7 linked regions of the Homo sapiens genome follow. The protein of the gene in region 3 purifies or fractionates together with the protein of the main gene of each other region. This does not show direct contact. Each region holds a gene or a part of one and is shown on either strand. Other genes may lie near its edges. The genes, in order: FKBP1A, SGSH, EPB41, LRPPRC, NUP155, ACP1 and TMEM33.

What was found.
Region 1: the proteins of EPB41 (region 3) and FKBP1A purify together in Homo sapiens (co-immunoprecipitation; one large-scale study listed by IntAct). This does not show direct contact.
Region 2: the proteins of EPB41 (region 3) and SGSH fractionate together in Homo sapiens (co-fractionation; one large-scale study listed by BioGRID). This does not show direct contact.
Region 4: the proteins of EPB41 (region 3) and LRPPRC purify together in Homo sapiens (co-immunoprecipitation; one large-scale study listed by IntAct). This does not show direct contact.
Region 5: the proteins of EPB41 (region 3) and NUP155 purify together in Homo sapiens (co-immunoprecipitation; one large-scale study listed by IntAct). This does not show direct contact.
Region 6: the proteins of EPB41 (region 3) and ACP1 purify together in Homo sapiens (co-immunoprecipitation; one large-scale study listed by IntAct). This does not show direct contact.
Region 7: the proteins of EPB41 (region 3) and TMEM33 purify together in Homo sapiens (co-immunoprecipitation; one large-scale study listed by IntAct). This does not show direct contact.

Annotation. Positions count from the first base shown.
Region 1 is NC_000020.11:1,386,555-1,390,054, reverse strand, and holds part of FKBP1A (peptidyl-prolyl cis-trans isomerase FKBP1A), read left to right. Parts: intron 1-3,500. UniProt on the Homo sapiens protein: Keeps in an inactive conformation TGFBR1, the TGF-beta type I serine/threonine kinase receptor, preventing TGF-beta receptor activation in absence of ligand.
Region 2 is NC_000017.11:80,210,334-80,213,833, reverse strand, and holds part of SGSH (N-sulphoglucosamine sulphohydrolase isoform 1 precursor), read left to right. Parts: coding exon 1-30; intron 31-1,559; coding exon 1,560-1,763; exon of another isoform or gene 1,764-1,910; coding exon of another isoform or gene 1,911-1,965; intron 1,966-2,646; coding exon of another isoform or gene 2,647-2,786; exon of another isoform or gene 2,787-2,822; coding exon 2,823-3,382; 3' UTR 3,383-3,500. UniProt on the Homo sapiens protein: Catalyzes a step in lysosomal heparan sulfate degradation.
Region 3 is NC_000001.11:28,917,569-28,921,068, forward strand, and holds part of EPB41 (protein 4.1), read left to right. Parts: intron 1-3,500. UniProt on the Homo sapiens protein: Protein 4.1 is a major structural element of the erythrocyte membrane skeleton. It plays a key role in regulating membrane physical properties of mechanical stability and deformability by stabilizing spectrin-actin interaction. Recruits DLG1 to membranes.
Region 4 is NC_000002.12:43,947,490-43,950,989, reverse strand, and holds part of LRPPRC (leucine-rich PPR motif-containing protein, mitochondrial precursor), read left to right. Parts: intron 1-389; coding exon 390-417; intron 418-1,330; coding exon 1,331-1,388; intron 1,389-2,471; coding exon 2,472-2,578; intron 2,579-2,790; coding exon 2,791-2,868; intron 2,869-3,214; coding exon 3,215-3,259; intron 3,260-3,500. UniProt on the Homo sapiens protein: May play a role in RNA metabolism in both nuclei and mitochondria. In the nucleus binds to HNRPA1-associated poly(A) mRNAs and is part of nmRNP complexes at late stages of mRNA maturation which are possibly associated with nuclear mRNA export.
Region 5 is NC_000005.10:37,361,107-37,364,606, reverse strand, and holds part of NUP155 (nuclear pore complex protein Nup155), read left to right. Parts: intron 1-222; coding exon 223-360; intron 361-622; coding exon 623-719; intron 720-3,500.
Region 6 is NC_000002.12:274,947-278,783, reverse strand, and holds the end of ACP1 (low molecular weight phosphotyrosine protein phosphatase), read right to left. Parts: intron 3,645-3,837; coding exon 3,583-3,644; intron 1,805-3,582; coding exon 1,699-1,804; intron 1,558-1,698; coding exon 1,480-1,557; 3' UTR 501-1,479; downstream 1-500. UniProt on the Homo sapiens protein: Acts on tyrosine phosphorylated proteins, low-MW aryl phosphates and natural and synthetic acyl phosphates with differences in substrate specificity between isoform 1 and isoform 2.
Region 7 is NC_000004.12:41,948,929-41,952,428, forward strand, and holds part of TMEM33 (transmembrane protein 33), read left to right. Parts: intron 1-373; coding exon 374-457; intron 458-3,500. UniProt on the Homo sapiens protein: Acts as a regulator of the tubular endoplasmic reticulum (ER) network by modulating intracellular calcium homeostasis. Mechanistically, stimulates PKD2 calcium-dependent activity. Suppresses the RTN3/4-induced formation of the ER tubules.

The sequences.
Region 1 (3,500 bases), on a different chromosome or scaffold from region 3:
TCAAGGGTCCCTCTGGTGACTTCCGTGACCTTCTGGCAGAGCACAGCATGAGCAAGGCCTCAAAGGAATGCCTGCACTACCTCTGTGGTACCAGAGGGAAAATACAAAGTTCACTATCACCAGCTAAGCATCTCCTAGGAGCATGACAGGCATTGAGGTGGGAGGGAGGTGGTGGAAAGGTAAGCTGCCAAGTAAGTGCCTTTAGGAGCCAGGGAATTCTCATGGCGCCTCCCTGCTGCCTCCAGTAGCTTCGTCATCTTTACTGTTAGCTTGTCCTGGCACACAGCTAGGTTTAGACCTCTTTTACTTACTTCAGCAGGCCGTGTGCCTGCCATTGTGAGAGCAGCCCCAAGGGGATTGAAGGAATGTTTTCTTTTTTCTTCTTAAAAAGTAACTAACTGGACATTTTGTCCTTGGGATCAGGTTTAAGTCAGGTATAGCCTCCCGGTTTCTGACTGAGAAAAACCAGGAGCCCCTCAACCTCATGTCCTCAGGAGGTTGACTGGGAAGGCTGCTGAGGCTCCCGGGACAGGTGTGGCCACTTTGCTGCAGCCTCCCTCAAGCCCCTTGCTTTTCCTTAGCTTTGTTCCCCCCTCTCCTCTGCTTTATTCCATCCACTCCCTTGCTAGGTATCTCTTGGTTGGTGATCTGATGTCTGGAGGGAGGCTCACCCTCAGCAGAGATGCCTCAGATGGCTTCCCCTGACGTGTGCTGTCTTGAGGCACACAGGCTGTAACTGTTGGGCAGGGCTGCAACAAGTCCCTTTGCCTTCCCACAGCAGATGTTTTTTGAGCAACAGCAGCAAGCCAGGCTCTAGGGACATGGCTAGTGAACTAAATAGACAAAGACCTGATCTGGTGGGGCTTTGCTTATGATGAGGAGACTGATAGTATGGCCATGGAGCACATCAGGTAGTAAGAAGCGCTGGAGAGATTAAAGCAGAGTGAGGGATGGGAAGGGAAGTTGGCTGCTTTTCGTGAGGGTGATTGGAAAAGGCCTCTGAAAAAAATGGCATTTTAACATTCACTCAAAGGACATTGGAGAGGGAGCTACAGGGCTGTCTAGAGTATCCAGGCAGAGGGAAGAGCTAGTGCAGGACCCTGAGGCTGGAGCCTGCTCGGTGCATTAGAGGAACAGTAAGAAGACCGGTGCGTTAGAGGAACAGGAAGTGGATTGTGTGAAAGGGTATGTGGCAGGAGATGAGGGGATGGTGGAGCCTCGTTGGTTTTTATAAAAACGTTGCCTTTTTCTAACTCAGGTGAGAGCCACTGGCTGGCTTGGCTTTTAATGCCCGCCCCCGCCCCCCCAACCCACGCTCCTTCTGGCTACTGTGTGGACAATGGGCTTTTGGGGGCAAAGGCAGAAACAGGACACTGGTTGTATCCCAGGTGTGTGGAGTGCCAGCTCAGGCAGTGGGCAGAAGTGGTGCCAGGTGGACAGTGATCCCCAAAGAGCATGTGGGTTCTTCGCTGTGTTCTGATCTTGACCCTGCCATACAACGGGCTATGAGAGCTTGAACAAATTGTCCCACAGTTCCCAGCTTCCACATGCTGTCTATAAAATGGGAGTAACGATGCCTGCTGTGAAGCAAATGCCTATCGAGACTACCCAGTTGTCTCCAAAGTGTTGCTCTTTTTTAAAACCACAGTTCCATTGAGCCTCACTCATCGCAGTTGTTATGTCTGTAATCTCAGTCTAGAAGAGTCCTTACGCTGTTTTTTTCTTAATAACTCTGATTTCTTCAAAGAGAGCAGGCTAGTTATAGAATACTCCACATCTGTCTTACTGTTTTCTCATGGTATTGTTTAACTTGTTCCCTGCCTTGATTTTCTGAACCGGATGTTTAATCTTTTAAGTGTCTGAATAGATTCCGTTTAAACATTTTAGTGTGAGTACTTCATCCTCAGCACACATGGGAAACATCACTAGTTGTGATGCTAAATTTGATCTTTTCTGTAAAGGTACATTTTTCCCTTTGCATTTAGCAGTGATCTGTGGAGTGCTTAGGTAGCCATAGATGGTCTCTTGCTCATCAGCCTTTCACCTAGTGGTGTTTACACCATCTGATCATTCTCCCCTGAAGAAGTCACTGGCATTCACAAAGTGTTGATTTTTAAAATTCCTTCATTCTTTCTAAATTTATTAGCTGTTATCCTTCTATAAGATAAGGTAAAGTAATTCTTTACCTTTAAATACCAAATTTTATTTTTATTTTTTGAGACAGTGTCTCTGTCACTCAGGCTGGAGTGCAGTGGCTTGATCATGGCTCACTGTAGCCTCGACCTCCCAGACTCCCATCCCGGCCTCCCATCCGGCCTTCTGAATAGTTGGGCATACAGGTGCATGCCACCTGTCCTAATTTTTGTATTTTTTGTAGAGACGGGTTTCGCCAGGTTTCCCAGGCTAGTCTCAAACTCCTGGCCTCAAGTGATCCACCCTCCTTAGCCTCCCAAAGTGCTGGTAGTACAGGCATGAGCCACCGTGCCCAGCCTTTAATTACCAATTTTTAAAATGAAAAATGAATGTTAACTGATGGGGTATTGCCATTCCCAGTGGGGGCAAGTGACTTTTTCCCCCTCTATTTGCTTTGACTGTACTGTGGGCTGAAATTTTTTGTCAGGGCCTTAAGATCAATGATACCCATTATTCTTTTTGATGCTAATATCATCCTAAATTTGGCCAGTAGGAGCCCTTTAAGCTGGCTCCAGTACCTTTTTGACAGGCTCCCACCATTCCTTCATCCATTTCTCGGTTTCACTACTCTGGTCCAATTATCAGCCATCTTTCAAAGAGCTCTGGTTCCTTTCAGTGGGGTCCATGACCTTTTTTTTTCTTGGTAACAGCTTTATTGAATATAATTTACATACCATAAATTCACCTATTTACTCATAGATGTTTTAACTAGAACATTTTTAGGCTTAAACTGATTTTTATGAATTACTGAGGGGTTTATTGTATCCATAAACTGGAAATCATTTGTCTGCCTTGGAATTTTCTCTAAAAATATTGTCACCTGCTGTTTCCCATGGAAGAAGCCAAGGTTATGAATAACTTAATCACATAGCATTCAGTTCTCCCTTTGGTGCTCATGGTGACATTTGTTTATTTTTACTTCTATTTTTTCTTCTGTTTTTTTGTTTTCTTTTCCTGCTAAAAAGCTTAACCAAGTCTCTGCATTCCCTCCCCTGGACCCCTTTGATTTTGACCAGGTGTATTCTAGCAGTGCAGAAAGTCGGGGAGGTAGAAATAACCAGTTCTTAGATGCTACTGTCTCTTTCTGTTACATTTGCTCTTCCTCTCCCAGGAGCTCAAGCCACCTTGGCCTGCATTCATTCCTCGAATGCTCCAAGCCTTTTCCCACATGGAGGTCTCTGCCCCTTTGCTTAGGTGCCACCACACTGCCCCCACTCCCCACTGCATGACAGGCTCTTTTCTTTATAGCACAGCTTAAGTAACACTTTGGATGCATACATGCATGCTTCTAATTCTGCAACAATGCA
Region 2 (3,500 bases), on a different chromosome or scaffold from region 3:
AGTACACCACCGTCGGCCGCATGGACCAAGGTGGGCTTGCAGAACCGGGCACTGGAGGGGGTGCCACGGCCGGGGTCCCCCATCCTGGGCCAGCGCCCTCTTAGGTCACGGCATAATGTGGGTGAGGGTCCCAGTGTGGCAGGCCCTGTGCTGCAGCTGGCAGAGCCCACATTGAGAGGAGGGGCCTGTGGGTGGCATCAGGACCCAACCCCGGGGCTGCCCTGATGTGGACCTGCTCCTGGGCTGGGGCCTTCGGGTGCCCCAGAGGTTGCGTGAAGACTTCAGATATTTCCAGTCACAGGACCTGGGTCAGATTTGGGGGTTTGGAGTTCCTTAGCATATGCAGATGGAGATCTTGAGGTCTGTGAGTTTTTTGTGGTTGATGGCTTACAGCAACCAAAATTTGTACTCCCACAGTTCAGGAGGCCAGAAGTTTGAAATCAAGGTGTCAGCAGGGCCATGCTCCCCTGAAGGCCTAGGGGAGACCCTGCCTTTCCTCTTCCAACTTCTGGGGGCTGTGCCAGTGCTGGGCGTTCCTGGGCTGGCGGCAGAATCGCCCCCATCCCCGCTGAAGCCTTCACATGGCCTTTTTTCCTGTGTCTCCTCTTTGTGTCTCCACTTCTTCTTTTTTTTTTTTTTTGAGACTGAGTCTTGCTCTGTCACCCACGCGGGAGTGCAGTGGCGCAATCTCGGCTCACTACAACCACCACCTCCCAGGTTCGAGCGATTTTTCTGTCTCAGCCTCCAAAGTAGCTAGGACTGCAATCGCACCGCACGCCACCATGCCCAGCTAATTTTTATATTTTTAGTAGAGACGGGGTTTCACCACATTGGCCAGGCTGGTCTTGAACTCCTGACCTCGTGATCCGCCCACCTCAGCCTCCCAAAGTGCTGGGATTACAGGTGTGAGGCACCGCGCCCGGCCTGTTTCCGCTTCTTATAAGGACCCCGTCGGGTTTAGGGCCTACCTGAGCACTTCAGGATGATTTTGTCCCAAGATCTTTATTCGTGAAGTTCCCCTTTCCAAACAAGAACCCCTTCACAGATTCCAGCACACATGTCTTTTGGGGTCAGGGACGACAGGAGGTCAGGACCTTTGCCATTTCCCTATTGGTGCCATTAATTCTTAGTGAGCTGGGAAGGAGCGGGTATAGAGGAAGCCTTGTCCTCTGGCCCCAGCTGGGAAGGAGCGAGTATAGAGGAAGCCTCGTCCTCTGGCCCCTGCCCTATTTGCTCCATGGGACAGACACGAGATTCCGGAGAACTCAAAAGCCGGCGGGCACCAGGGAGCAGCTGCCTGGGGGTGACACAGAAGTGCCAAGGGATGGCTGGAGTCCCTGGAGGCCCATTCGAGGCCTGCTCAGGGAATGGGAGCTGGGCGGAGCTGGGCAAGAGCTGGGCAAGAGCCAGGGCCATTGGGAAGAACTACAGGGTGCTTTCGAATCCGGAAAGCGCTGGAGCCCAGCGGCCGGATGCAGCAGCAGGTGGGTCTACACACACCACCCGCTGCCTCCCTCCGTGTCTGCGGCTGAGCTCTGCTTCTCGGCCCCTCACCACAGGAGTTGGACTGGTGCTCCAGGAGCTGCGTGACGCCGGTGTCCTGAACGACACACTGGTGATCTTCACGTCCGACAACGGGATCCCCTTCCCCAGCGGCAGGACCAACCTGTACTGGCCGGGCACTGCTGAACCCTTACTGGTGTCATCCCCGGAGCACCCAAAACGCTGGGGCCAAGTCAGCGAGGCCTACGTGAGCCTCCTAGGTATGCCTTTGTCTGTCTCCGTCAGGAAAGGTGTGGGAGTGGATCTGGGACGGGGCCATGACCTGTCAGATGCTGCTCCACACCCATTACCTAATGTGGCTCTCATATCATCTGGGTGAGGAAGGGACTGTCACTCCCACTCTACAGAGGAAAAGAATGAGGCTCAGAGAGGTGAAGTAAGCTGCTCAGGATTGCACAGCTGGTAAGCACTAAGCTAGGATTCTCGCCTGGATCCTGCTGCTTTCAAAACCATTGCCTTTTCCCCGCCTACCTCCGATGAGCTTCAGAATCACCTGGGATGCTTGTTAATATCCAAATTGCAAATCCCAGGGTGTCCGATTCAGTAGATCTTGGCGGGCTCAAGAATTTGCATGTCTGACAAGTTCCCAGGTGATGCCGATACTGTGGGCCTGGGGACCCCTCTCTGAGCATCCGTGCACCCCATCCTGCCTTCCTGGGGGACCCAAAGCACCTCATGACCCTGCTCATTCCTAAAAAGACCTAGGACATCTAGTCCCATGTTATGGATGTGCAGACAAAGACACGGGTGCAGGAAGACTTTGTGAGGGGCTCGGGGTGACCCCTTCGGCACAGGGCAGAGGCTCGTGTGTCCTGCCCACTGCCTGGCAGAGCCTCCAGGTGGGGTGGGCCCGGGACAGCAGGAAACTCAGGTTCCCTTTCCCTCCGAGCTCGCGGCCCACATCTCTCTTGGGGCCCACATCTCTCTCTGGCCCCAAATGATGAGCCAGGAGCACTGTGGCCACACCCACCACAGGGGCTGGAGTACACGAGCTACCAAAAAGGAGACTTCTTTTCCAGTCCATGGGATTTTAGAAGGATCCTAAATGTCACCGAATCAGGGCCTCTTGTTATACCATTCAAGGCACTGAGGCCCAGAGAGATGACGTGGCGGTGAGAGGTGTCGGCTCGACAAGGCACCTCCCGCTGCTGATTGGATTGGAGAAGGGAGCCGCCCAGAGTGGCGTAGGTTCGGCCCTTCCGAGGGCAGCTCCTGTGTGCTGAGGGCTCTGCTGCTCTGAGATGCCGCGTCCCTTCCAGACCTCACGCCCACCATCTTGGATTGGTTCTCGATCCCGTACCCCAGCTACGCCATCTTTGGCTCGAAGACCATCCACCTCACTGGCCGGTCCCTCCTGCCGGCGCTGGAGGCCGAGCCCCTCTGGGCCACCGTCTTTGGCAGCCAGAGCCACCACGAGGTCACCATGTCCTACCCCATGCGCTCCGTGCAGCACCGGCACTTCCGCCTCGTGCACAACCTCAACTTCAAGATGCCCTTTCCCATCGACCAGGACTTCTACGTCTCACCCACCTTCCAGGACCTCCTGAACCGCACCACAGCTGGTCAGCCCACGGGCTGGTACAAGGACCTCCGTCATTACTACTACCGGGCGCGCTGGGAGCTCTACGACCGGAGCCGGGACCCCCACGAGACCCAGAACCTGGCCACCGACCCGCGCTTTGCTCAGCTTCTGGAGATGCTTCGGGACCAGCTGGCCAAGTGGCAGTGGGAGACCCACGACCCCTGGGTGTGCGCCCCCGACGGCGTCCTGGAGGAGAAGCTCTCTCCCCAGTGCCAGCCCCTCCACAATGAGCTGTGACCATCCCAGGAGGCCTGTGCACACATCCCAGGCATGTCCCAGACACATCCCACACGTGTCCGTGTGGCCGGCCAGCCTGGGGAGTAGTGGCAACAGCCCTTCCGTCCACACTCCCATC
Region 3 (3,500 bases):
GTGCCTGGCCCTGTATACATATGTTTTTAGAGACAGGGATCTTACCTTGTTGCCCAAGCTGGAGGGCAGTGGCATGATCCTGGCTCACTGCCGCCTTGAACTCCTGGGTTCAAGTGATTCTCCCACCTGAGCCTCCTGAGCAGCTGGGACTACAGACGTGCACCACCATGCCCAGCTTTTTTTTTTCGTTTTTAAAACACGGGGTCCTGCTATTGTTTCCCAGGCTGGTCTCAAACTGCTGGTCTCAAACTCCTGAGCTCAAATGATCGTCTCACCTCTGCTTCCAAAAGTGCTGGGATTACAGACATGAGTCACTGTGCCCAGCTTAGTCTGTATTACAGACATGAGCCACCATGCCTGGTGTGTAATTGTTGGTGTGAATGATAGAGTTTGCTTACTTTTTTTTAATGTAGTAATCCAGTTTCATATTGCTAATCTGATTTCATAACTTTAGAATATCAGTGGCCATGAGAGGCTGAGTTTGGTTCTGAAATCAAGAGGAGCATAGATGTAGACCACAGTCTGTTTCCTTGTTATCTAAGAGGCAGGACAGCATAAGTGTTGCCAGTGTATTTTTGTTTTTCTTGTCTTTTCTGTCTCAGCCTCCTGAGTAGCTGGGACTACAGGCACACACCACCACACCCAGCTAAATTTTTGTATTTTTAGTAGAGACGAGGTTTCACCATGTTGGCCAGGATGGTCTCCAATCTCTTGACCTCGTGATCTGCCCACGTCCGCCTCCCAAAGTGCTGGGATTACAGGCATGAACCACCACACCCAGCCAATGGCCTGTATTTTTCTGAGTTTCATCAAGTTTGTGTTTGGTTAAATGCATATTCAGATGTGGATTCATTGCTACCTCTATATTTGAATTTTTTCTTTAATTACTTGAACATGGAATCACTTTATTTTGTGAGCTAAACAACAATAATTCCAATAACTTTTCTTATGAATAACTTTGTTTTTTTCCTCTAAATAAAGCCCCCAAAGATGGCCTCTGAATTAATCAGTTATGGGCCTTATGTATGTGAAGGATCCAAAATTATTGAAAAGTAATTGCTAGCTAGGTGCAGTGGTTTATGCTTGTAATCCCAGCACTTTGGGAGGCCGAGGCCCACGGATCACTTGAGCCTTTGAGTTTGAGACCACTGCATTCCAGCCTGGGCAACAGAGTGAAATTCTGTCTCAAAGAGAAAAAAGAAAAAGTAATTGCTTGATTGCATTTATCATAGCATTTAGTTAGAGGAGAGGAGAGGCAGATGCCAAATGTATGTTATTTTTTGTTGTTCATTTAAGTTTCTTGGTATGTCACTGGTGGCTTTTACTGTGCGTCCTTTTTAAGAGTGGGTTCATGGTGTGTTTAGTCAAATGCAATATAACTTACTCTGGAGTGCACACTGGGTTAGATTAGTATTTTGATTTACTCTGCTGCTATTTAATGAATACATAGAAAGATAAAGAAGAATGCTGTAGCAGTGAGGAGTATTCAGAACTTGGAGGTGTTAGAAAGGAGAACTTTGATATTTTATATTGAGTGCTGATCTCATTTAGAACTACCCACCTTACTGACACTTTGCTTCAAATATTGGTTTTGGGAAAATCCGATTATGATGAAAGTCTGTTTATACTTATTTTGCTGATTTTTTATTTAAATTGAATTGTATCCACTTAAAATATTTGAAAATAAATTGGCTAGCTCTTTGAACTTTGGAGAACAGCAGCCAGTATAATTCAAGGAGTAGCTTGAAGAGACTTTAATATCCCCTACCCGCTAGCTTCGTCAGCTTCCCACTAAGTCACCCTAAGTAAACATGCAATCTGGGTAGGAACTGGGAGCTTGATATCCAAATATTCTGTCTCTCCTTCCAGTCAAATTGCTATCCTTAAAAGTCCTTTCTTTCTTTTTTTTTTTTGAGGCAGGGTCTTGCTCTGTTGCCTAGGCTGGAATGCAGTGGCATGATCTCGGCTCACTGCAACCTCTGCCTCCCGGGTTCAAGCGATTCTTCCGCCTCAGCCTCCTGAGTAGCTGGGACTACAGGCATGCACGGCTAATTTTTGTATTCTTTGGTAGAAACGGGGTTTCACCATGTTGGCCAGGCTGGTCTTGAACTCCTGATCTCAAGTGATCCATCTGCCTTGGCCTCTGAGAGTGCTGAGATTACAGGCATGAGCCACAGCATCCAGCCCAAAAGTCCTTTCTATATAGAAATTCCAGAGACATTCTGGCGTCATGCTTTTAAATTATTTATTGTTTTATTATTTTTATTATTTTATTATTGCAATTAAGAGCAGTTCTCTTTTTTGCAAGTTATCTCTTATCTCCAAGTTAAATCTATGTGGATTAAACTGTGATTGTTTATTGAATTGCTGCTCTCCCTCTTCCGTAGCTGATGACTCTTTGAGTCAGTTCTACCCAATTAATCTAGGCCCTCAACTCTCAGGGTGATCTCTGCTTGTGGAGATTAAAATTGTTTCTAAGCTATGTGGAATAGAGCTTGGGTAAGGTTAAAGAAATTTTGGCAGGGTGGGTAGGAAGGGGCAAGATTATCTGTCTGATGGAATGGATAAGAAATATGACTGTGAGTTTATATTGATTAGATTGGAAGAAGCAATAGATGCTCTATTAAGATTATTTTCTATTACCTAATTCTATATTCAATGTATATCTACAATTCTGTTCTGTTATCTAATATCTATTAATAGAGACAGGAACACCTCCATCTTTTTTTGGAAATAGGTGGAAATAATCAAATAAGATTGGATATAATCTGTACTCTTGTAGTTAATTGTTATTTATAGATGCAACCTGATTCCATCCTCCACAAAAGTCACCCTAATGCAGATCAGCTTTTGGTAGGCCCTCTATATGTTTGAATCATAGCACCGGACACAACATAGACTGAGGTTTTGGTACTTTCTACATTAATATTCACTCAGAAAACTTTTGCCCATGCATTATATTTGTTATATCTGCATTAAATCATAAAAAAGTTATGATAGAAAAGTTTCAAGTGAGAAACTCCCCGTGATTTAACTATATTAGAGCACAGGATTATTTTATTTTTATTTATTTATTTATTTATTTTTTGAGACAGGGTCTTACTCCTGTCACCCAGGCTGGAGTGCAGTGGTGCGATCATGGCTCATTACAGCCTCAACTTCCCAGGCTCAGGTGATCTTCCCACCTCAGCCTCCTGAGTAGCTGGAGCTACAGGCTCCACACCTGGCTGATTTTTTATATTTTTAGAGACTGGGTTTTGCCATCTTGACCAGGCTGGTCTTGAACTCCTAGGCTCAAGAAATCTGCCTGCCTTGGCCTCCCAAAGTGCTGGGATTACAGGTGTGAGCCATGGCGCCCAGCCTATTTTAATTTTTAAAAATTTATATGGGGAGTCTCTCTATGTTGCTGAGGTTGGTGTTGAACCCCTGGGCTCAAGTGATCCTCCTGTCTCAGCCACCTAAATAGCTGGGACTACAGGTGTGTGCCATCACATCTAGCT
Region 4 (3,500 bases), on a different chromosome or scaffold from region 3:
CAGGCAATTCTCCTGCCTCAGCCTCCCGAGTAGCCTGGATTACAGGCATACACCAACACTCCCGGCTAATTTTTCTACTTCTAGTGGAGACGGGATTTCACCATGTTGGCCAGGCTGGTCTCAAACTCCTGACCTCAGGTGATCCACCTGCCTTGGCCTCCCAAAGTGCTGGGATTGCAGATGTGAGCCACCAGGCCTGGCCTATTTTGAATATTTGAGGTGGGTGAGTGTCAGCCTTTCTAAATTACCTTTGTCCTGAAAATTCATCCTGATACAGCAAACATTTATTTACTTATTAATTTTAATACTTTGATCTGTACATATTACAAGTATGCATATACTTGAAAATAAACCTGGGTTTATTTTCGATCCTTTGCTGCCCTCTGCAGGTCTATGAATATAAATCTTTGGAGCGAGGTAAGTCCCTCTAATATTGCAAATCATAAGGTGCTTTTAACGTTACAAGCCAATACCATAGGTTATGTAATAATTTTTATCATGAAACCTATATTTGGTTTTCTACTAAAATTTTGCTGGCAGAGTTAATGTTGAAAAATAATAGTTATGTGTGTCTTTTAGTGTTTGTGAATCCAATTGATAAGAATCCAATGGGAGGAGGGAGAGGATCAGGAAGAATAGCTAATGGATGCTGGGCTTAATACCTGGGTGATGGGATGATCTGTGCAGCCGACCACCATGGCACACGTTTACCGATGTAACAAACCTGCACATCCTGCACATGTACCCCTGAACTTAAAATAAAAGTTGGAAATTAAAAAAAAAAGAATCCATGAGAATAGACACTTTAATCTTTAGACCCCTTTTGTTTTAGTCTCATTAAGATGAATGGAAGTTGTTATTAAATATCTAAAAAATGTAAGTTATTTAGCAGTTCAGGATATTTTACTTTATATTTCAGTAAAACTTAATATAAAATGAGGAAACCAGTTCAGTGTCAACAAGACCAAAAGCAATATAATGAGGAATAATATTGGTCAATAATTCCTATAAGCTCTTTTCTATTTATAACAGTTCATTCAGAGTGATGTTTATATATCAATTTATAAATCAGTTTAGAGTCTTTCTGTGTGACATTTCACAAAACATTGCAGTTTTCCTTCAACATGGATTTGTTTTTGTTTTTAAAAGACAAACCTATTATTTAAAAACAAAACAATCTCCTTGGCGGGTGGGGGTGGTTTTGAATTACTGTGAAATAGAATAGTACCTTACTGGGGAGAGGTTTTATTATTTCAAGAATTCAATTTCAGATTGTGTTTGTTCTTGTTTGCTTCTCTTGCTGCAATGCACGAATTTTCTGTCTTACCAGATAACAGAATTGTTGTACAAGGATGGACGTTATTGCCAGGAGCCTCGAGGACCGACGGGTAGCGTTTCAATTTCGATGATTGTAACTTATCCACAAATCCATTTTTCTGTGTAATGATGGGTTAGGAGGATTACAGCAGTAAATACTTTATTTTTTAAAGTGGAATTTGAAAACATTTGGTTATAAATCTTTATATTGATTACAACATTTTGAGATCTAAAGTGTTTGATTTTGTTACAATTATTTTTTCTAAAGACAGGGTTGGGAGGCTTTTTCTTTTCAGATATTGGGGAAATGTTTCTTCTAACATCTATGGAAATAGGCTTAAAAATCAGTGATTCTTAGTATTTATGTGCTTTTAATGTTTTGCAGGTGTAGTTAATTTTAAACATAAAATGTAGCGAAGGTTCTTGTGGATTTCCGCTTAAATGTAATTTATTGCCCCAAATACATTGTTTTGACATTTAATGATTTTCATTTTTCATATAATGAAGCTAGACTATATAGTTTTCTGTAAGATGGTACCCCTCTTGAAAGTTTACATTTCTATCCTAGGTATTACTGTAACATGGCCCTATACATTTTATGCTTGAATGCAAAGGAAAATTACTGTTGTTACAAAACATCTTTGTTAATCTTGGTTTTTCATTGGCTAATAGGCAGCTCTCCACAGGATTACTGTATCTGCTTATTAAAATTGTTTAACTTTCTTTACTCAACATTTAACAATCCTTTCTAATTTTATGTGCTTCCCTAAATATTGTCCACAAAAAAAAAACAGTATAGAAATGTGTACAAGACATTTATTTATTCTTATTACGTGTGATTTGGACAGGAAAGGGGTAAGGCCTTGGGCAGGACCACTTCTGTCACAGAGTGGTGGAAAAAAAATAGATTGAAGTAAGATTCAGTACTGAAAAGCTGTCACTCGGTCTGAAAATAATTAATATTCCTTTCACTCACCAGTTAGATATGTGCTCCCAAACCACATAATCTCTATGCCTCAGTGATCATTGTTGCCATTTCAGAGCCTCTCATCAGGGTGACATCTCACACCAAAATGATTTCTTATAAATTAATCTTGATAACATGACAGTCTCGGTAATTTTAGTGGAATGCTTTCTCTTGTTTTTTTCCACAGAAGCTGTTGGCTATTTTCTTTATAACTTGATTGACAGCATGAGTGACTCAGAGGTACAGGCCAAGGAGGAGCATTTGAGACAATACTTCCATCAGCTGGAGAAGATGGTACCATTTCGTTTTTTGCTATATAATGCCTGTCCTGCCTGACATGTATCTATTAGATTTGAAATTGCTGCTTTTAAGTACAACCAGACCACTTCTCAATGACATGCAAGAGTTGGAGACTTAAATTATGTCTGAGATAATTTCTGTTAGACAAATTTCAGTTTGGTTGTCTAAAACTCAGGTTTTTTCCCCCCTCCCTTCCCTTCTCACAGAATGTAAAAATTCCTGAAAATATCTACAGAGGCATTCGTAATCTCCTGGAAAGCTACCATGTTCCTGAATTGATTAAGGTGTGTGTGAAATAGCAATCAACTGGATAAAATGCTTAACTTACATATAACAGCATGTTAAAATTTTATTTAAATATGATGCTTTTGGTCAGAAAAAAAATTTGTTTCAATGACAGCCATTAAAACGAAGCTTTTCATTGATTGTTCATAAATACTATTTATATATTCATAAATATATTTATAACGTTAATTACATTGATTAATAAAGTATGAAGAGAATGTCTAAAATTTTGGAAAGATGAAAAGTAGTAATATGAGGTGAGACTTACAAATTTGCTTTTGATGTTTGCTGATGTATTTTTACGTGTGTTTTCTAATTCTGGGCTAATTTAAATTTCAATTTTAGGATGCTCACTTGTTGGTTGAGAGTAAGAATTTAGACTTTCAAAAAGTAAGTAGGATTTTGACTAGATTCTACATGCTATAATACCCATATTTAATGAGTATTCTGGATTGTGTACTTATAAAACCAGTGATTCCTCACATTTTTATCATCTTGTATACCTCTAAGAAGTTGGTAAAACCTGTTCCCCACCTCAGAAAAATCAACATATCTAAGAAATTTGCATATAATCTCAGAAGGTTTGTAAATCCCTGGAGTCCATCCATGGATTCCCCAATTAATATCCCTG
Region 5 (3,500 bases), on a different chromosome or scaffold from region 3:
AAGTTTTTTGAGATATGACTTTCCCTTTAGGCCTGAAACCAGTAACTGTTCCTACCTTCACAAGGGAATATTTCAGGACTACTTTGTGTTGGGTCAAAACTAGAATATTCTCTCTGTACCTTTGGAACCAACACACAACAATTTTTTTGTGGCACTCAATCCTTTTGTTTGCCCGGTTGATGAGCAGTACATTATTATAAATACTTCATTTTCTTTTTGTAGATAATCCCACCGTTTCTGGCATGTCAGATATGGATTATCCTTTGCAAGGACCTGGTTTGCTGTCCGTACCCAACCTTCCAGAGATCAGTTCCATCCGAAGAGTTCCTCTCCCACCTGAACTTGTTGAGCAGTTTGGACGTATCCTATTACTTTGTATTTATTTTAAAAATGTTAAAATTGGTATTTTTCATTCTTATAATTCTTGTTCTATGTTTAATTAATGTGTTATATATTCATTTAAGGGTTTTATTTAAAATTCGTTTAAGTATATGGGTTCCATGTTGTATTAAAGAGTGGACACATTGTGATTTTTTACGTAAATATTAAGTCAAAAGCTATTGAAACAAGTTAAAGAAGAATAAGATTCACCTCTGTCTGCCTTACATCCACACTACCTCAGATATGCAGTGTAATTGCATGATGGGTGTGTTCCCTCCTATCAGCAGAGCTTGGCTCACAATTGACAGTGATATATTCATGTGGAACTATGAGGATGGGTATGTATTTAAGGCTGGTTTGCTTTAAGGGTGATTGGAATTTATATAAACTTTACTGTAGCTAGTGTTCTCATTAGAAGCTGCTTGGTTTATCTTTCATTCATCTAGCCTTTGGGTCAGTGCTTCTCAGTATCAGTCATCTGGAGATGTTCAAATGTGCATTCTGTCTTAGTAGTCCTGAGTGAGGCTCAAGAGTCTGCATTTCTAACAAGCTGCCAACTGCTGCTGCTGGTTTAGGTGCCATTCTTGAGTGGCAGGAGCCCGGGTCCCAAGCTGTTAGCCCGTAGTAAAAATAGATGTTGGCAATTCATTGAGAGATGATTGGACATTTTTAAAGACTTCTGTTTTCCTTGCATTTCTATGGAGTAGGCATGTGATATTTATTTATTTTGTTGTCATTTTGTGAATTTGACCCGTGTGTAAATTATATGTATAGAAATGATTCTGAGTGAAAGCCTAAGGTACTTTTGCTTAAATACAGCATGTTGGTCTGGTGATCTCCCTGTTGACTTTTTAGAGATAGATTTTGTTTTACTTCCAGTTGTCCATTACATTATCCTTAGATGAGGTGTGGGATAAACATAGGAAAGCCCATATAATTAAGATGTTACTCTTGTTCCTGAGTAATTAATGATCTTTTTAGGAACACACGTGCATTAAAAAGACACTGTATCGGCCGAGCACGCTGACTCAAACGCCTATAATCCCAGCACTTTGGGAGGCTGAGGTGGGTGGATCACCTGAGGTCAGGAGTCCGAGACCAGCCTGGCCAACATGGAGAAACCCTGTCTCTACTAAAAATACAAAAATTAGCCAAGTGTGGTGGCACATGCCTGTAGTCCCAGCCACTCGGGAGCTGAGGCAGGAGAATTGCTTGAACCTGGGAGATGGAGGTTGCAGTGAGCTGAGATAGTGCCACTGCACTCCAGCCTGAGTGACAGAGCGAGACTCCATCTCAGAAACAACAACAACAAAACACTGTATTATTGAAACAAAATTGAAACTAAATGACAGCTTAACACCTATAGCTTAAACGAAACCATTTTTTTCTACTAGAAGTTTCGTAGCAATTTTTCATGTTGAAATGTAATAGTTGTAATAGCAGTGATGTATGATTGTGATTATTTTTCATGTACCCTGAATGTTCCCCACTTTGTTATGTTACCATAACATATTCATTTTTATACTAAATAATGAAACCTTTTTTGTTTAGGTATGTATCTTTTCAAGAGAAGTCATTGCAAAAATATTACAGAACAGATAAATGTGAGAATAATTGTTTTCTTTAAAATATGTTTTCGGCTGGGCATGGTGGCTCATGCCTGTAATCCCAGCACTTTAGGAGGCCAAGGCAGGCAGATCACCTGCAGTCGGGAGTTCGAGACCAGCCTGACCAACATGGAGAAAGCCCATCTCTACTAAAAATACAAAATTAGCCTGGCATGGTGGCACATGCCTGTAATCGCAGCTACTCGGGAGGCTGAGGCAGGAGAATCACTTGAACCTGGGAGGCGGAGGTTGTGGTGAGCCGAGATCGCGCCATTGCACTCCAGCCTGGGCAACAAGAGGGAAAACTCCATCTCAAAAAAAAAAAAACACTAATGAAATTTTTTACATTTCCATTAACATCCAACATATTTATTTAACACATACATATTGATCTTATGTATCTGACACTGTTGTTGTGGTAGGAACAGTACTGAATGAGATGAATGTAGTTCTGCCCTCATGGAACAAACAGTCCTACCTTACTGTGTGTCTTAGTCCGAGCTGCTAAAACAGAATACCATAGCCTGTGATCAACATGAATTTCTTTCTCATGGTTCTGGAAGCTGGAAGTCCAAGATCAAGGTCTGGTGAAAGCCCACTTCAATGTTCATAGATGGCTATCTTTTCACTCTGTCCTCACATGGCAGAGGGGTAGGGGAGTTCTTTGGGTCCTCTTTTATAAGGGCACTAATCCCATTCATGAGATATACCCTCATGACCTAATAACCTTTCAAAGACCCCACCTACAAATACTATCACATTAAGAGTTAGGATTTAATATGAATTTTAGGAGGACACAGATATTTGATCCATAGCAGTGTGTGTTCATTTAAAGAAAAATTATTTGAAGAATGTACTTATTTTAAAAAATCAAGGCACAAGGTCCACAAATTCAATTTTGTAAAATTTATACTTAGTTTAAATATTCAATTGGCTTTCTATTATAAATCCTAATTCCACCTGGATGATAAAAATGTAATCTTGGTCATTTCATTGTTCTCTAACCCCCAAATATCTCAGCATTGGATCGTAGTTCCAAGAGGCTGTGCCAGTTATCAAAGGGCCCTGTGGAATGGCATGATGTAAGAGGATGGGGAATCCTAGTCCGCATAAGTTGCCATTTAGCTATTTTGTTCCTGTGTGGATGGCCTTTTCAGGATGACTGGAAGCTTTCTTGAAAGTCTAGATCATATTTTTTCGTGGTATTTTTTCTGCTTCTTGTTCTCTGAGCTTCTTAGATCTTTAGTTTGATGTCTTCTATTATTTTTAGAATTTTTTTCAGCTGTTATCTTTATTTCTCTCTCTCTCTCTCCTTTTCTGTTCAGCCATTGTCTTTTTTTTTTTTTTTTTTTTGAGACAGAGTCTCGCTCTGTCGCCCAGGCTGGAGTGCAGTGGACTATCTTGGTTCACTGCAACCTCCACCTCCTGGGTTCAAGCACTTCTTGCCTCAGCCTCTGGAGTAGCTGGGACTACAGGTATGGGCCACCACACCTGGCTAATTTTTGTATTGTT
Region 6 (3,837 bases), on a different chromosome or scaffold from region 3:
GTCTGAGTAATTCCAACAAGAGCAAGACTCACTGGGTTTGCAAACTTTCTTCCTATGAAGACAGCCTGGCACTTCCACATGGTACAGTGGGGAAACTACTCACTTTCATCTGGCAACAGCTTATCCTCCAGATACTAGGGAGTCAAGGATCAAACGTGTCTCCTCCCCATGGCACTGCCTGGGACCCTCATGATACTGAGGTCAGGAGTGCAGATGTCCTGGCCAGGCAGCTGTGCATCACTGCACAGGAGGGCACAGCGTAGAGGCAACATGTCCAGAGGATGGTACTGGGCAAGGACAGTTCCAGCTGTAGAACCTCAAACTTCCTTCAGAAACTAGACATGATGACATGGGGCAGCAATGTGCTTATTTTCATCATTTTACTTCCTTATCCTGAAGATAAAATATGCACACCTAACATCACAGATCATGTAAAAAGGACAATACAATGTTTTCAAATGCTTCCTTACCTGTCAATAAAAAAACAGGCAGACACCAGATTTATATCTCTAGTTGTATTTTTATAACTCCCCAGTTTATTTTGAAATATTCATGATTTTGACATTATCTCAAAATACACAGAAATTACCTTACATCTGCCTATACATTTATTAAATGCTGATGAAGAATACTTATTCAATATTTAAGCATGCCAAATAATAACACTTTTCCCAACTTTTAAAATTATTTTAAAAAATAAGCCAATTTATATTGGACATTTGGGTTACATGTGCATATAAAAACAGTCATATTCCTCAACTGACCATAGACTAGCATACAAGTGTCCTTCTTTCTGGATGTAATTAAGTTTCAGAGGCAAAGTGGTTCAGATGGGAGCCAATGGGCTGACCTCCTCATGAAGTAAACTCGACAAAAATCATGAAGTATTGAAGGTGCCAACGACTGATTCCATAAATGTTTCTCTCTTCCCTATCTTTTCAATATACAAGTGTGCACTATGGGTGTGTAGAAATTAAAACACTTCTAATCTAGACTGTGAGCTCCTACGGAGGGGACTACTGTCAATCCACAAAAGGCCCTAGGGAAGAGAGAGGTAGCACTGGGGAGCAGAGGGCACCTGCCCTCCAGGCCATCCACACAAACCTACTGAAGAGGTAGACTCGATTATCTAAGTCTCAACAGGCTTAGATGTTGACCTGGGCCTTCAAGTGAGGTTTTCCTTCATTGTTTTATGTTGCTTGTTCTACTATTTTTGTAACTGGGGCAAAGTGAGATGTTCAACTAGTCTAAGAATGCTTAAAATACCCCATAAGCTGTCTGAATCAAAGATTTTTATTGATTCTCCTGCCAAACACAACTGATTTCCATCTACAATTACTTTTTAAGGTAAGAAACAGTAAGTCAACTGAACAAAGAGCTGGGCTTTGGGCCCTGGAACGTGATTACACACCGACTGAGAAATGCAGGACCTCAGGGTGGGGTCTAGTCAGGCTGGCCGCAGCAGGGCACGAACCTGCCTCAGTGGGCCTTCTCCAAGAACGCTCTGCAGCACCTGACACACTGCTGGTACACCGTCTCAAAGTCAGAGTCATTCCCCTAAATGGACAGGAAAAAGAAGAAAATGGCAAAACCTGCATAACAAAAACATCCTTAACACAATCTCATCTGTTATTTAATATGGCAGGATACAAATGTGTTGGGTCTTCATATTAGCCCTAAAACGTGAACTGTACTTACATAATAGGGATCTTCAATAATAAGTTGTTTTTGTGGATCATAGCTCCCAAGTAGTTCAATTTTAGCTTTGCAGGTTTTAACTTGATTACTTTTTCTATTCAAATCTCTGTAAAATTGAAATATGAACTTAGTTTTCTGATCTATGGTTTCAAGTTAAACAGGGACATCTGCTAGGGTGTTCTGAAACATCCATATCAAAATCAAGACAGAATGACCTAATTTGAAATGAAACGGAACACTCAGCAGGCCCGTGTGGCCCCTTCTGCAGCTGTATGCCACTGCCCTCTCTCTAGGCAAGACAGTTTGCGACAGCAGCTTATTCTCACTGATTCTGTTACACAAAATATACAATAATTATATTTTCTCCCACAAAATACATTTTAAGACAATCAAGTTTCAGAGATAAAGGTCATAGAAAGGAACCCAAAACACCATCTGAACCAGTCCCAAAACAGAGGGCTACCAATTCCATCCTCAGGTGTCTTGACACAGCACTTCCCACAGCACGACCCACTCCTTAATTACTCTTCCATCTTTTATTCCTTAAGCCTCTGCCCAAGCTGAAAACTCAGCTTCACTCTAGACTTCCACCCTTAGCTTTCACATTGCTACAAAAGAAAAAGGCAAACTTAACTAAGCGCCTCCATTTATTTAACAAATTTCGACTGAGCACCTGCGACAGATGAGTTGATGAGTCAGGTACGTGCTTTATGTGGGAACGGAACAGCCAAGAGCTCCCATGCACGAAGTTTTACAGCTCAGGATTAGGTGCAGGAATGAGAACTGCAGGCAGGCCTAAGTCTAATGCACAATCTGGCCTAATGACAGGGCAGCAGAATACCTCTATCAAGAAATGAATTTAAGCTGACCCACGAGGGGCAAATAGGAGCCGAATGACCCAAGAAGCAAGGAGGAGCTTCCAGGCAGAGGAACAGCACGTGCAAATGTGAGGCTGCAGGAACTCCACTTGCCCCACACGCAAAGAAACACGGTGCTCAGTGCCAGTCAAAGCAAATGGGGTCTCCTAAAAAGGTGTTTTTACGATGCCTATGGGCTATGGTGTCAGCAAAAACAATGAGAACAGAATAAGGACTGAAAAATAAAAATTAAAAAATACATGCATTTTAATGAAGGTCCTAATTAATAAAAAATAATTGAAACTGGTGCATCCCTATCTGTTCATTTGTACAAAAGTAATTAAAAGCACAAATAGTTTATCTTCATCAAAAACATGAGATATTTATGAATAAGTAGTGATGCAAGTCAGAATCCTGGAGTGACATTAAATTATGATCCGTTCCCGATGACGCCTTGAACATGGGACTGGGGCAGGTCAGGAGGGTGGTGACTGAGGCAGGGGTGCATACAGCAGGGCCCTTCCTCACTGAGCCTAGGCTTAAATCCCATGACATCCACCACATGCTAGCTGTGTGAACTCGGGGACATAACCTAACATTACCGTTTCTCACTTCCTTCTTTTACAAGATGGGATAATAATAGGAACCTATGGTTGCAGAGCTTTGACCTGAGAATCAATAAAACACTGCCCTGCCCAGGAATCATTACAGCAAAAATATCAAAATCGTTCTCATGCAGAACAATATGCTTGATACAAAACTATAACAGCCAAGCTAGTTTTCCAATTAAATCATGCTATTAACAACTAGACTTTCCCTTTTCTAAGGTGTATTTCCTTGTAAATACCTAAGAGACAATTCTAGATTACTAAGTTTTTTGCTGTTCTAAATAAAATAATTCTACATATGGTGACCATCACTGACTATTAAAACCTTTAAAATAGAAAAAGTAAATCTGGACAACAAATTACTTGGCCCACTGCTGAACTGAGAGTTGAACAGAAATATTCTTCAAAAACAGGATTACCTCAGATTGCTTTCATCCATACATAGTATATAATCAAATGTGGCAAAATCTTCTTTGGTAATCTAAAATTGAATAAGAAGTCAAAACACAGTGTTTATACCATTCAAGCCTAGAGGATGCAAAGCAATACTAAAAGAAAAAAAAAACTGCTGTATTTGAGCCTGTTACTCACTAATAAACAATTAAATAATTTTTAGGGTACTTTTAAGTTAAAATAGAGTTAACCTATTTCTCAAAATTGTACTGCAAAGAAAT
Region 7 (3,500 bases), on a different chromosome or scaffold from region 3:
TCTTTTTATATATATAAAATAAGTCACTTTTCATTTGCATATTTTATGAAGCTTTACAACTTGATTTCATCAATTAGTAATTACGGAATTATTTAACATTTTCTGATTTATTTAGTATTTTAAAAAATTTCAAAAGTAATACAGATAAGAATACATTTATAAAAAAATTAAACAACATTTTACTCTTTACCAATCATGTACATTCTTTTATATCCTTTTTTAAGGATAACTTGGATTTAGACATGATAGATTTCACTATGACCATTTGATGAATGAAGATACACATATTCTCCAGTTGAATTGCTTTTAAGTTTTGAGAGTATACACATGAATTGAAATGTATATTTATCACGCTTGTATTTGTTTATTTCAGTGGTCAAGGAAGTTTGCTCCAACCTTTTATATACTATAGATTTCTTACCCTTCGATATTCGTCTCGAAGAAACCCATATTGTCGGTAAGCTGATGATTATTTTAGGCATGTTTTATTTGTTGAGAGTATTGTGAATATATAGTATTCGCAATTCTTAAGAGTTACTTAGCTAATGTGTTAGACTTTAGAAGCAAGCAGTGTTTTTGTAAATTTAAGTTCTAGGCCTTAGAATGTACTGGGGTTGGTGAGGAAGTGGTTGTATTTGTTCTTAGAAACTGAGACTGCAGTTATCTACGCCACCTCTAAAGCACTGCTAAAACTTAGCAAATTTTAAAATGTATAAGACATAGATTCCACTCTCAACTTTCCTAGTTGAAGAAACAAAACACGTGTCAATTAGATAAACAATGGTTAGGATACAGAATTCACAAGCCAATAGATAATGAATGCCATATGTTTGCTTTATTATATCAGTACTGCAGTCCACAGAAGGGAGAGATCATTGGGCCAGAAGATAGATGAGCCCAGGAAGGTTTCACAAAATTGAGATTGTGGGAGGAGTAAAGCTTTTGAATAGGGAAAAGCATTTTAGGTGGGGCAAGAGAGACGAGAAGCACAAGCCATATTTGAGGAACTTTATGTAGAGCTGTTTTGACTCTAATGGAGATTCTGAATGGCTAATTGCTGGAGCTAAGATTAGAAAGGTATATTGGAGCTATATTATAAAACTTCTTGAGTTTTAGGGTAAGAAGTTTGGAATTTATCTTTTAGGTGAATGGGAATGATGGTTTTGACATCGTCAGAATATTCTTCTGATACCCTTGTGCCAGAAGAGTTTGAAGCAGAAAAATGGGGAAGCAGAGAAATTTTAGGGAATTACTGTAGTTTTCAGGAATGGAGGCTTAAATTAATATACACTAAATTATGCATTCTGATCTCAAGCATTGGAGTAAAACTAAAATGATACTCAAATACTAATATTAAGATAATCTATTTTTAAGTTTAAAATAATGTAGAATTCAGCTAGAAATCCAATGAGTGCATTACAGCAATCTGTATATTTTCATAAGTACAGTAAAAAGAACTTGAATTTGAATGCTGGCCCATCATTAACTAGTTGTGTGACTAGGCAGGTTATTTATTTGGATTTCTTCATTGGTAGAGGAAATAACTCCTTCTGGGGGTGAAGCGAAGTAATATTTTAAAAGTACTTAGACTGTTATGTTCTTACTAGTTCATTTTCATTATTCTATGATCTGATTTTCTGTTCAGAGCGTTTTTATGCTCTATTAGACAATGTCTTTTTTATAATACTTTCTAAAATAGAACTTATTTTAGACATTCGTTCTTAGTGAGTCTCTAGTAGCAAATTAACATTCATTTTTACTTGATTTCTTGAGTTTTAGCCTTTTTTCTTTCTGGTCCCTATATTCATTTCAGACATTATCTTATATTCTCTTGCCCTGACATCTGTTATTTTAATCAGCATATTTGTTTTTCTGTGCTTCTTTGTGCCTCCTTCTCCATTCCCATTTTCTTCACATACCCTTAAATCATATTAGTACATCTAGAATTCAGTTTTCAGTGGACTGAAAAGGAAAGGATAGCAGTGAATCAAGATAACACAAATATGTGCTGGTAAACATCTTCAAAGCTGTCTTATAAGCACCCATTTTAACCAAACCAGTGGAAAGGTAATGGAAAATATTTCAGCTTGTAAATATTGATAAACAGGCTATAAAACTACATTTTCAGTACTACACTTTTTTTAATTAAAGGTTTTGAGACCATCTCTATTCACAATTTGTACCATTTTCACCTACGATATTTATTCTCAAGTTGGTGGTTTCAGTTGTTTTTGGATCTCTAGTGCAGATTGTCTATAGCTGTGCTGTCCAGTACAGCACAGCAACCACATTTGACCTTTAAATAAAATTCATAAAACTTAGAACTTGGTTCCTTTTGAGCACAGTTCAGGTGGGTACTCAAAAGCCATGTGTTGCTGATGGCAACTGTGGGTCAGCACACATATGCAAAAATTTTGTCATTACTCAAAGTTCTGTTGTCAGTGCTATTAAGGAACTCTCTGACTGGTCCTTCAGCACAGATATGCAAAAATTTTATCATTGTTCAAAGTTCTGTTGTCCGTGCTGTTAAGGAACTCTGACTTGGTCTGTGCCAGCGATGCAGCCAGTAATAAAAGAACTATGTGACTTTAGTGAAAGCGATTGACTTCATTAGTCCTCATGTCTTCTAGCTTTATTCATTTGACTGATTGGTTAAAACAGTGATTGTATGTTGATGAACTTATGTGGAATTAAAATATCTTCTTTCAGAGGTACTCACTGCTGAATAAATTAGACAGCTATGTAAGTCAGTGTGATGATGAAGGTGCTCTGAAAGCATAGAGAACAGACAGAGACAAATAAGAATTCACTGAGGAGGTGGGAACATAAGCCAAGTCTTTTAAAGAATGAGCCTGAGTTCTGACACATGGGTGCCTGAAAAGTGCTTAGCATACTTGAGCTCAGGAAGTATATAGAGAATTGATAAATATCTGTGTCCACAAAGGTAGATGGTAGAAAGGACTAGATCATGAAAGGGTTTGGATTTTATTTTGAGGTAAGGAGAGCCTTTGAAGATTGTAACATAGAGAGGCTGGGAACCCCCATGATGAAATCTGATTTAGAAATATTCCAGAAAATGGATTGCAAGCTCAGCAAGAGAAGAAAAATATCAATTTGGAGACTATTAGAGTAGTCTAGAGCCTGAATTAATCCAGTGGTAAAAGGAAAAGGGGACAAATATGAAAGGTATTAGGAGATAGGATATTAGGGCTTGAGAGAAAAGAGTAAATTAAAGACCCACAGGTTTCTGGCTTGGAAGCCTAAGAGTTGTAATGGTGCTCTCACGAAGACAGGAGATACAGGAAGGGCAGGTTTTGGAAAATTATGCATTACTCCAAATATTATTATTCCTGTCTTTCTGTGCAAGCATATTAAATACTTGTTTAGAAAAGTAGATTTGTTGCTTTTTTTCTAACCATAGAAGTAAAACAGGACACAAAAAGGTAGAATAGTAGTTGCATCTTTATACAGGATGAGTCAGCACATAAGGTGAAAATTGT